Linked DNA regions of Homo sapiens. The protein of the gene in region 1 purifies or fractionates together with the protein of each later gene. This does not show direct contact. Each region holds a gene or a part of one and is shown in the gene's direction. Other genes may lie near its edges. The genes, in order: PADI4, MTMR4 and DNPEP.

Evidence for each region.
Region 2: the proteins of PADI4 (region 1) and MTMR4 purify together in Homo sapiens (affinity purification with mass spectrometry; one large-scale study listed by BioGRID and IntAct). This does not show direct contact.
Region 3: the proteins of PADI4 (region 1) and DNPEP purify together in Homo sapiens (co-immunoprecipitation; one large-scale study listed by IntAct). This does not show direct contact.

What each region holds. Positions count from the first base shown.
Region 1 is NC_000001.11:17,356,610-17,360,260, forward strand, and holds part of PADI4 (protein-arginine deiminase type-4), read left to right. Parts: intron 1-2,228; coding exon 2,229-2,299; intron 2,300-2,670; coding exon 2,671-2,799; intron 2,800-3,651. UniProt on the Homo sapiens protein: Catalyzes the citrullination/deimination of arginine residues of proteins such as histones, thereby playing a key role in histone code and regulation of stem cell maintenance.
Region 2 is NC_000017.11:58,508,018-58,511,668, reverse strand, and holds part of MTMR4 (phosphatidylinositol-3,5-bisphosphate 3-phosphatase MTMR4), read left to right. Parts: intron 1-157; coding exon 158-240; intron 241-2,827; coding exon 2,828-2,988; intron 2,989-3,104; coding exon 3,105-3,201; intron 3,202-3,394; coding exon 3,395-3,508; intron 3,509-3,651. UniProt on the Homo sapiens protein: Lipid phosphatase that specifically dephosphorylates the D-3 position of phosphatidylinositol 3-phosphate and phosphatidylinositol 3,5-bisphosphate, generating phosphatidylinositol and phosphatidylinositol 5-phosphate.
Region 3 is NC_000002.12:219,371,392-219,374,727, reverse strand, and holds the end of DNPEP (aspartyl aminopeptidase), read left to right. Parts: intron 1-385; coding exon 386-436; 3' UTR 437-2,685; downstream 2,686-3,336.

The sequences.
Region 1 (3,651 bases):
AACAGGGCAGAACAGCTTGCTGCCCTGTGGGCTCACAGGCCAGGGGGAAGTGAGTCAAAAGAACAGCTCCAACACAGGGGCTTTGAGGGGTGTCTGAGTGGATGGAGCTCAGGGAAGGCTTCTTGGAGGAGGCAGAGGCCAAGCAGTAGCATGCAAGTAGGGGTTGGCTGGGCAAACGGGGCAGGGAAATGAGAGGAAGAGAGATACCACAGGCAGAGGGACGGGGGTGGGGCGGCTCAGAGGCAGGAGAAAGCACGATGTGTGTGAGGACCTCGGGGAGGTTCGGTATAGCTGGAGCACAGATGAAATATTACTCTCTCAGCAGAGCTCACAGACATGGGCCAGGCCCCGGGCTGAGATGCCTCTGTGGCTGAGAGCTCCACCTCAGATCTGAGTATGTTGTGTGGCATCAGGAGAGGGCTGACCTGTTTCTTCCTCTCTCGATGGGATCTCTTTGGAGATAAGATAATTTAGCGTTAATGCAAGGCAAAATGTTCCAGTGAACAAGTTTCATGGTTCAACTTTATAATAATTATAAGTAAACCTGTTAAATTTTTCTGGACATTCTTTTCTTTTGAAACGAAGTTTTCCTCTATTGCCCAGGCTGGAGTGCAATGGCGCGATCTCGACTCTCTGCAGCCTCTGCATCCCGGGTTCAAGTGATTCTCCTGCCCCAGCCTTCCGAGTAGCTGGGATTACAGGTGTGCACCACCACACCTGGCTAATGTTTTGTATTTTTAGTAGAGATGGGGTTTTGCCATGCTGGCCAGGCTGGTCTCGAACTCCTGACCTGGTGATCCACCCACCTCGGCCTCCCAAAGTGCTGGGGTTACAGGCATGAGCCACCACGCCTGGCTTAAAACAAGGACATTTCTTATTGACAGCAACTAAATGGTACTTGTAGCATTTTTATCACACAGTAGATTCCATCCATTCACTATACTTTTCTGAGCTGTCTGTCCTGCATGCAAGTAGATATTTTTAATGTTGTCTGTTTTCTGTGCTGTTCCTGTAAGTGTGCTATTAAAATACACTAAACTAGGCTGGGCGCGATGGTTCATGCCTGTAATCCTAGCACTTTGGGAGGACGAGGCGGGTGGATCACGAGTTCAGGAGTTCAAGGCCAGCTAGGCCAAGATGGTGAAACCCCGTCTCTACTAAAAATACAAAAATTAGCCGGGCGTGGTGGCGGGTGCCTGTAATCCCAGCTACTTGGGAGGCTGAGGCAGGAGAATCACTCGAACCCGGGAGGTGGAGGTTGCAGTGAGCCAAGAATGTGCCACTGCACTCTAGCCTGGGTGACAGAGCAAGACTCAGTCTCAAAAAAAAAAAAAAAAACAAGAAAATATTAAACTAGGCCAAGTGTGGTGGCTCACACCTGTAATCCTAGCACTTTGGGAGGCTGAGGCGGGTGGATCACCTGAGGTCAAGAGTTTGAGACCAGCCTGGCCAACGTGATGAAACCCCGACTTTACTAAAAGTACAAAAATTAGCTGGGCGCAGTGGTGCGCACCTGTAATCCCAGCTACTGGGGAGGCTGAGGCAGGAGAATCGCTTGAACTCGGGAGGTGGAGGTTGCAGTGAGTCAAGATCGCACTACTGCACTCCAGCCTGGGCGACAGAGCAAGGCTCTGTCTCAAAACAAAAAAAAAATTACACTATAAAAATATATTTTAGGCCGGGCGCGGTGGCTCACGCCTGTAATCCCAGCACTTTGGGAGGCCGAGGCGGGCGGATCACGAGGTCAGGAGATCGAGACCATCCTGGGTAACACGGTGAAACCCCGTCTCTACTAAAAATACAAAAAATTAGCCGGGCGAGGTGGCGGGCGCCTGTAGTCCCAGCTACTCCGGAGGCTGAGGCAGGAGAATGGCGTGAACTCCAGGGGGCGGAGCCTGCAGTGAGCCGAGATTGCGCCACTGCACTCCAGCCTGGACGACAGCGAGACTCCGTCTCAAAAAAAAAAAAAAATAATAATAAAAATAAAAATATATTTTAAAAAGAATTTAAATGAGGTGAGAACAACATTTTTAATGAGAACTTATACTGCTAAAATATTGTATTAAAGATATTTGACTTGCAGATGCTCACAGCAAACCTGTATGGTAAGAATTATTACTGACTCCATTTTATAGATGGGAACACTGAGTCCCCCCCCGGCACTGGCTGGGAAGAGGGAAATCGACCTCTAAGTTCATTTGCCTTTTTTTTCTTTTTCTCCATGACAGAAAAAAAACAGCAGAAAATAAAGAACATTCTGTCAAACAAGACATTGAGAGAACATAATTCATTTGTGGAGGTAGGAGCCTGGGTGCCTACACCCCAGCAGACCTGACGCCCTGTCCCCGGCTCAGCCACTTTCCCAGTGATTAGAGGCACACAGAGGCTCAGGGTCTCAGGATGCGCTGGAAGACAGAGACACAGAAGCAAGGGCAGAAGCAAAGACTGGGAGAGGCTGAGGGAGCAGAGGGAATGGGAGGCCCCAGGGTCCCCCGAGAGCACTGGCCAGAGGCCCCTCTGTGCAGTGAGGCCTGGCAGCCACCTTCACTGCCTTCCTGACACTGTCCCAGGTCCTACCCTCCGGCAGGGGGCCTCAGCCCCACACTGTCCCCCACCCCCACCCCCGACTGCCATCAGTCCCCCACTCACTGCCCCTGCCCCTTCCCCAAGAGATGCATCGACTGGAACCGCGAGCTGCTGAAGCGGGAGCTGGGCCTGGCCGAGAGTGACATCATTGACATCCCGCAGCTCTTCAAGCTCAAAGAGTTCTCTAAGGCGGAAGCTTTTTTCCCCAACATGGTGAGGAGGTGGCGGCTTTAAAACCCCAGGGTGTGGCATGGAGGTAGCTCAGCCCGAGAGGCCAGTGGGGCACCCGGGCGGTCCCAGAGGGCTTGGCTCCTCTCTGTAACCGTTTGTAGCTTTGTCCTGAGTGGTACAAGGTCAGACGTGACCAGGTCCATGCACGTTGGTGTCTTTCCACAAGGTCAGGCTTCTACTGATGCTATTTCCATCATAAAATCCACAAGCCACACGGAGTTCCCCAGGGGCAGTCCTCAGGTGGGCAGAGCCCTGGGCACACAGGCTCAAGCCACTCCACAAGTCAGTCAGTCCTGCAAACCATACATAGTAGTGTACTTAATCAACACAGAAATGTTACAGATGAAACATTCTTACCAAACAAAGCAATATTTAACATCAAGAGAGAAGGGGATAGGAAAAGGGGTCAGTGAACCAGTCCAAGGAGAGTGATGTGGACAAGGAGAGGGTCCTGGGCTGATCTAAATGGACATCAACGTCTTGCAAGGAAGAGTGTAATTTTGGCAGAGCCTTCAACAGCGGGTGCCAGGTGCTAATCACTAGTGACAGCAAGACAGTGTCTGTTAAGACAGTCATCTTGAGGCCGGGTGCGGTGGCTCACGCCTGTAATCCTAGCACCTTAGTAGGCCAGAGCGGGTGGATCACTTGAGGTCAGGAGTTCGACACCAGCCTGGCTAACATGGTGACACCCCCATCTCTACTAAAAATACGAAAATTAGACAGGTGTCCTGGCAGGAGCCTGTAATCCCAACTACTTGAGAGGCGGAAGCAGGAGAATCACTTGAACCTGGGAGACGGAGGTTGCAGTGAGCCAAGATCATGCTATTGCACTCC
Region 2 (3,651 bases), on another chromosome or scaffold:
TATGCAGAGGACTCCGTACAGTTACCAGGTGCTTAACAGACCCTCAGTAAATGTTGGTTTCCTTCCTGCTATTGATACATTAGTGCCTACGCTAGGGTGAGGGTGAGGAGTGGTACCCAGTGGGGAGTCTGAGCTTCAGTTTGCCCTTCCTCTACAGGTCCCCCTCCGGATGATTGACAGTGTGGAGAGCCGTGATATGTTCCAGTTGCACATTTCCTGCAAGGACTCCAAAGTGGTGAGGTGAGAACAACGGAGCCTCACTCAGGTCCCCTGGCCCTAGTCTTGTCCAGTTCTCTGTGCTGCAGGGTTTCTCTGGTGCAAGAGAGGAAAGATCCTGCCTCACTTTCCCCAGTTGGAAGAAAAGGTGAAGACCATGTTCTGGGTTGGGAGGTCAGTTTACTGACCCATAGGATCTTGACCTGAAAAAATGGGGGTAATGCCTAGTTCATGGAGTCATCGTAAGGATTAAGTGAGATAATGTGTATGTGTATGAAAGCACCGAGGACAATATCTGGCACAGAGCACTCATATTATTGTTGGTTTATTTATTTATTCATTTGATATACATGTATTGAGTACCCTACTCAATGCCAGCCTGTTTTAAGCCCTGGGGATACAGCAGGGAACAAATAGACAAAATTTTGCCGCCTCAGAGAGCTTACATTCCAATGAGGAGATACCAACCGTAAGTAATAAGTAAAATTTGTGAAATGATAGTAAGTGTAAAGGAAAAAAATAAAGCAGGGAAAGGGAATAAGGAGTGCTATGAGGGTGAAGATTGTAAAACAATCAGGCTGGGCACGGTGGTTCACGCCTGTAATACCAGCACTTCGGGTGGCCAAGGTGGGAAGATCCCTTCAGCTTAGGAGTTCAAGATCAGCCTGGGCAACATAGCGAGACCCCATCTCTACTAAAAATAGAAAAAATTAGCCAGGTGTGGTGATGCGTGGGGAGATCGCTTCAGCTTAGGAGTTCAAGATCAGCTTGGGCAACAGGACGAGACCCCATCTCTACTAAAAATATAAAAAATTAGCCAGGCGTGGTGATGCATGCCTGTAGTCCCAGCTACTCAAGAGGCTGAGATAGGAGGACCTCTTGAGCCTGAGAAGTCGAGGCTGCAGTGAGCTGTGATTACACCACTGCACTCCAGCCTGGATGACAGAGTGAGACCCTGTCTCAAAAAAACAAAAGTGATCAGAGAAGCTGCACCGAAAAGGTGGCAGTCGAGTCAAGACTTGAAGAAAGTGGCCATGTGGCTATTTGGTGGAAGAGTGTGCCAGAGACAGAGAACGGCAAGTGCAAAGGCCTTGAGGTGGGTGTGTGCCTGCATATTGGGAGACTGGCAGGGAGGCTGGTGTTGTTGGAGTAGAGCACGTGTGGGTGAGGGTAGTGGGTTATATGACCTGAGAACAAAGCCGGGTGTCAGACACTTTGGCTGTCATGAAGACTGGCTTTTACTTTGAGGGAACTGAGAAACCACTGGAGGATTTTGAGCAAAGGAGTGATGTGATCTGATTAATGTTTCATAGAATCACACTGGCTGCTATATTGAGACTAGATGAAAGAGAATGGGGGCAAGAGCAAAAGCAAAAACTGGGAGACTAGTTAGGAAGCTATTGCAGTTACCCAGATGAGAGATCATGGTGGCCTGTCTGAGGTGGTAGCAGCCAAAGCGGTGAGAAGCATTCAGATTCTGGGTGTATTTTGAAGGTGGAGATGAGAAGATTTGCTGACAGATTTGAAGTGAAAGAAAGAGGAATCTGGATGACTCCAAGGTTTATTAAAAGGATACCTACTTTAGAGCCTACCATGTGCTCAGGTCTGTGGGGCATTCAGAAGGAGCATTCACATTGCCCTTCCCTTCAAGGAGGCTAAACTCTAGCTGCTGGAAGAAGATTTAACATGTGGCAATATGCTATGGGAAAATGTGTTGCTTAGTACTCCAAGTAGGCCAGGCACAGTGGCACATACCTGTAATCCTAGTACTTTGGGAGGCCGAGGGAGGAGGATCGCTTGAGCCCAGGAGTTCAAGATCAGCCTGGACAACATAGAGAGACCCTGTCTCTATGAAGAATTTAAAAAGTTAGCCAGACGTGGTGGTGCACAATTATGGTCTCAGCTACTCAGGGGACTGATTTGTGAGGATTGCCTGAGCCCAGGAGGTCGAGGCTGCAGGGAGCTGTGATCGTGCCACTACACTCCAGCCTGGGTGACAGAGCAAGAGCAAGACCCTCTCTCAAAAAAAAAAAAAAAGGTATATATATATATTCCAAGCACATTAAGAATCAAGAGAGGAAGGAGTTTCTGGAATAGAGTAGGCTGGGAAGGCTTCAAGGAAGAGGTGAGACTGAAACTATCTTCAAAGCATCAGTAGGATGTGGCTAGGCAGAGAGGAGACATTATCAAGCAGAAGATAAACCAAGGAGATGGGAAGGATGTGAGCAGAACTTCCCGCCTGAAGCAGAAGGTTTGAGTTAGGGAGTCATGGGAGATAACACTGGTCCATTAGGGTAGGGACAAGGAGTGCAGACGTTCAGGGCCACATGGTAGCATTTAGATTTGATACGAGAAACAGTAGCGCCCCATTCGAGAGGATAAGTATGCCTCAAACACAGGAGTTCTTGGGAAGAGAATTATCACAAGAGACAACTTCTGTTGGGTGTTGGCCAGTGTCCCTCGTCCCCCCACCCTGGGTCCCCACTGCTTTACCTCTTGCTTTGCAGCCTTCTCTCCTCACAGCCTTCCTGTGGCTGTGTTTTTGGCCCTGATAGCCCCATGGCACAACTGCACTTTGCCTCACCTAGGCCTGTGGCTTCTTGCCTGGCAGGTGCCACTTCTCCACTTTTAAGCAGTGCCAAGAGTGGCTCTCACGGCTAAGCCGAGCCACAGCAAGACCTGCCAAGCCTGAAGACCTCTTTGCCTTTGCCTACCATGCCTGGTGCCTGGGGCTGACCGAGGAGGACCAGCACACTCACCTATGTCAGCCAGGTGAGGCCAGTCTATTTTCTTTGGGAGGCTGCTTCTTACCCCTTAGTTCTCATCCCTCCTCCACTCCTGCACATTGGTGCTCTGGGAAGCTAACCATCGTGGGGGCTCTGTTGCAGGTGAGCACATACGTTGTCGACAGGAGGCGGAGCTTGCAAGGATGGGCTTTGACCTGCAGAACGTCTGGAGAGTCTCACACATCAACAGCAACTACAAGTGAGAGGGTTGGGGACCAAAACACCTTCCACACCAAACTACTTCCGTGTTTGGATAAAGTGTGGTGGGCACAGCTTCTGAGTCTGAGAGGGAGGAAGGCTCATGGTTTCTCTTCCCACAAAGCCATCCCCAGGGATCCTGTCATCACATGTTTTAGACCCAGTGCAGTGACCCCCACCTGGTCTCTTCTCAGATTGTGCCCCAGTTACCCCCAGAAGCTGCTGGTTCCTGTGTGGATCACTGACAAAGAGCTGGAGAACGTGGCTTCCTTCCGCTCCTGGAAGCGGATTCCCGTGGTTGTGTATAGGTGAGGCAGTGGGGCTGGGAAGTAGGGAGGCCATTTCTTATGCAACAAGGAAAGAGTCAAAATTGGAGATTTTGGGTAACCTGGTTGACTGAGAATTGACACTCTATGGGGAAGTATGAAATAACTTTAAAACAAAAACTATC
Region 3 (3,336 bases), on another chromosome or scaffold:
GGGCCATGTAGGAAAACAAGGGTCCTGGCCAACCACAGTGGCTCATGCTATAATGACAACACTTGGGGAGGTGGGAGGATTGCTTGAGGCCAGGAGTTTGAGACCAGCCTGAGCAACATGGCAAGTCCATGTCTCTACAAAAGAGAAAAAAGAGATAAAACAACGGTCCTTATTCTTCTCAAGGCTCAGGGGCCCTGACCCAAAGAAATGGAAAATGAGGGGATGGGAAGAGGGGATCAGGGCTGAGAAGACTGGGGTGGCTGTCAAGAACAGATGAAACCTCGGTGCTTCTCTTGCTGGAACATATGTTGGTGGGAGGTGGGTGGCAGGACATCTCCATCTGGTCACTCACTAATTCCAAACTCCATGTTGCCTCCCATTATAGGGCTTCTTTGAGCTGTTCCCTTCTCTAAGCCATAATCTCTTAGTGGATTGAGCCCTCTTGGAAAGACTTCTCTGCCATCCCTTTGCACCTGAGAGGGGAAGTTCTCAGCTGAGCTGAAGCTGGATTATTAAAGTGGATTGTCACTCAGACTCTCCGTGCTACGCTTATTTGGAGACTAGAGGAGTGGGAGTTGAGCCTGGCTTGAACCTTTGGAACCAGAAAAGTTGGGGAGCAGGTGGAGGAGGCCACACTCCTGGGAGCTGATGGTTTTAAATCTGGTTTTAAATCTCTTCTCTGTCTCAAGTCCATGTCTGAAGTGGGTGAAGGGTGGACTGGATCCTCAAGCAGAAGGTCACTTCTCCCACCCCTAGTCCTCCACCTGGGAAATGGCCTCAACGGTCTTCCCTCTTTCCATCCCCAGAATGGGTGTCCCGCTCTGCCTTCAGAGATCCTGTTCTGCACTGGGCCACCTTCAGAGCTGCTCTGGGCAGACAAAGCTGTTTCTCACCCTCCCAAAATCCCTTCCCATCCCCTCTCAGGAGCTGCAAAGAGAAGGGCACAGTCTATACCTTATCACCCTTCATCATCCACTTCTCAGCAGTCCCTGGTATTACTTGATTGTGAACATATTATCAGGAAAAAAGATTATCATTGAAAAAATTGGAAAAGTCAAAGTCTGGCCGGGTGCAGCGGCTCACATCTGTATTCCCAGCATTTTGGGAGGCCAAGGCAGGTGGATCACTTGAGGTCAGAGTTCAAGACCAGCCTTGCCAACATGGTGAAACCCATCTCTACTTAAAAAAAAATACAAAAAAATTAGCCAGGCATGGTGGCACACACCTGTAATCTCAGCTATTCAGGAGACTGAGGCAGGAGAATAGCTTGAACCAAGGAGGCGTAGGTTGCAGTGAGCTGAGATGGAGCCACCACACTCCAGCCTGGGCAACAGAGCAAGGCTCTGTCTCAGAGAAAAAAGGCCAGGCGTGATGGGTCATGCCTGTAGTCCCAGCACTTTAGGAGGCTGAGGTGGGCGGATCACCTGAGGTCGGGAGTTCAAGACCAGCCTGACCAACATGGAGAAACCCTGTCCCTGCTAAAAATACAAAATTAGCCGGGCGTGGTGGCACATGCCTGTAATCTCAGCCACTCCGGAGGCTGAGGCAGGAGAATCGCTTGAACCCAGGAGGCGGAGGTTGTGGTGAGCCAAGATCCTGCCATTGCACTCTAGCCTGGGCAACAAGGGTGAAACTCTCTCAAAAAAAAAAAAAGAAAAAGAAAAAGTCAAAGCCTGCTTATAAACCAACCTCCTTCCTTCCACTAAAATAATTGTGCAAACTGGTGTCCTTCCAATCTTTTTGATACCTATATAAAAGTTTATTTCCATATAAATATTCCACTTCAGCTTTCTAAAAAACTTAATATAATATAGAGATATTTCTATATCAATACATATAAATTTAATTTAGCAATGGCAAAAAGTTAGAATTCATCTAAAGATTTCTCAGTAAAGGCAAGCCCAAATACACTATGAAATGTCCATTATAGGTAGCTATTGAGAAAAAGATAAATTGTATAGTGTGTGTACTAACATGAAGAGATTACAAAGACATTGTTGAGTAGAAAAGGCAGGTTGCAGAACTGGACACAGGACAAGGAGTACCTTCAAAACATTATATGGCCAGGCACGGTGGCTTATGCCTGTAATCCCAGCACTTTGGGAGGCCGAGGTGGGCAGATCACTTGAGGTCAGGAGTTCAAAACCAGCCTGGCCAACATGGTGAAAACCTCTCTACTAAAAATACAAAAAAAATTAGCCATGCGTGGTGGTGGGTGCCTGTAATCCCAGCTACTCGGGAGGCTGAGGCAGGAGAATAGCTTGAGCCAGGGAGGCAGAGGCTGCAGTGAGCCAAGATTGAGCCACTGCACTCCAGCCTGGGCGACAGAGCCAGACTCCGTCTCAAAAAAAAAATTATTATATATTTTTATGTGTATATAAATATGCACGTAGATGTATACATGTATAGAAAAAGCCTGGAAAAATGCACCTGAAACTTTTACAGTGATCTTCTGGGTTGGGAGTGACAAAAGGGCCTTAGCCTTTTTGTAATGGTTTCCTTTTGTATAACAGAATGTACCATGTATTACTTATGTAAAAAATTTTACCCTCACACTGTATTTACTCTTACAATTGGCGTACAGTATTTTATTGTATAGATGGTCATTATTTATTCAGTCTGTTAATAATGGTCATTTAAGTTTTTCTCCAGTTGACAACTCTAAATAACATTGAGATAAATGTACATATATCATTGTACATTTGCCTTGGTTTTTCCCATGGGATAAATTCTAGAAAATGCCAGCTGAACTATAGTGACAGCAGACCAGTGGTTGCTTGAATGTCAAGGATTGAGAGAGAGTTTGGTTGCAAAAGGGTGCAAGAAAACTTTTAAGAGGGTGATAGAAATGTTACCCCAGAGGTGGAAGAAAATCCACATATAAATGGACCTGTGCAGTTCAAATTCATCCACTTACATGTGGATTTGTCCCAATAAAAGTTATACCGGCCAGGTGCGGTGGCTCACACCTGTAATCCCAGCACTTTGGGAGGCTGAGGTGGGCGGATCATGAGGTCAGGAATTCGAGACCAGCCTGGCCAACATGGTGAAACCCCATCTCTACTAAAAATACAAAATTTAGCAGGTTGTGGTGGTGGGCGCCTGTAATCCCAGCTACTTGGGAGGCTGAGGCAACAGAACTGCTTGAACCTGGGAGGCGGGGGTTGCAGTGAGCGGAGATCGCACCACTGCACTCCAGCCTGGGCAACAGAGCAAGACTCCGTCTTGGAAAAAAAAAAAAGTTATACCAAGTATGCCTGGCTCTCCTGAACCCCCACCCCTGCTACCCCCTATTCTACCTCCTCCGCCTCTTCTCCCACTGTTGCCCCAACCAAC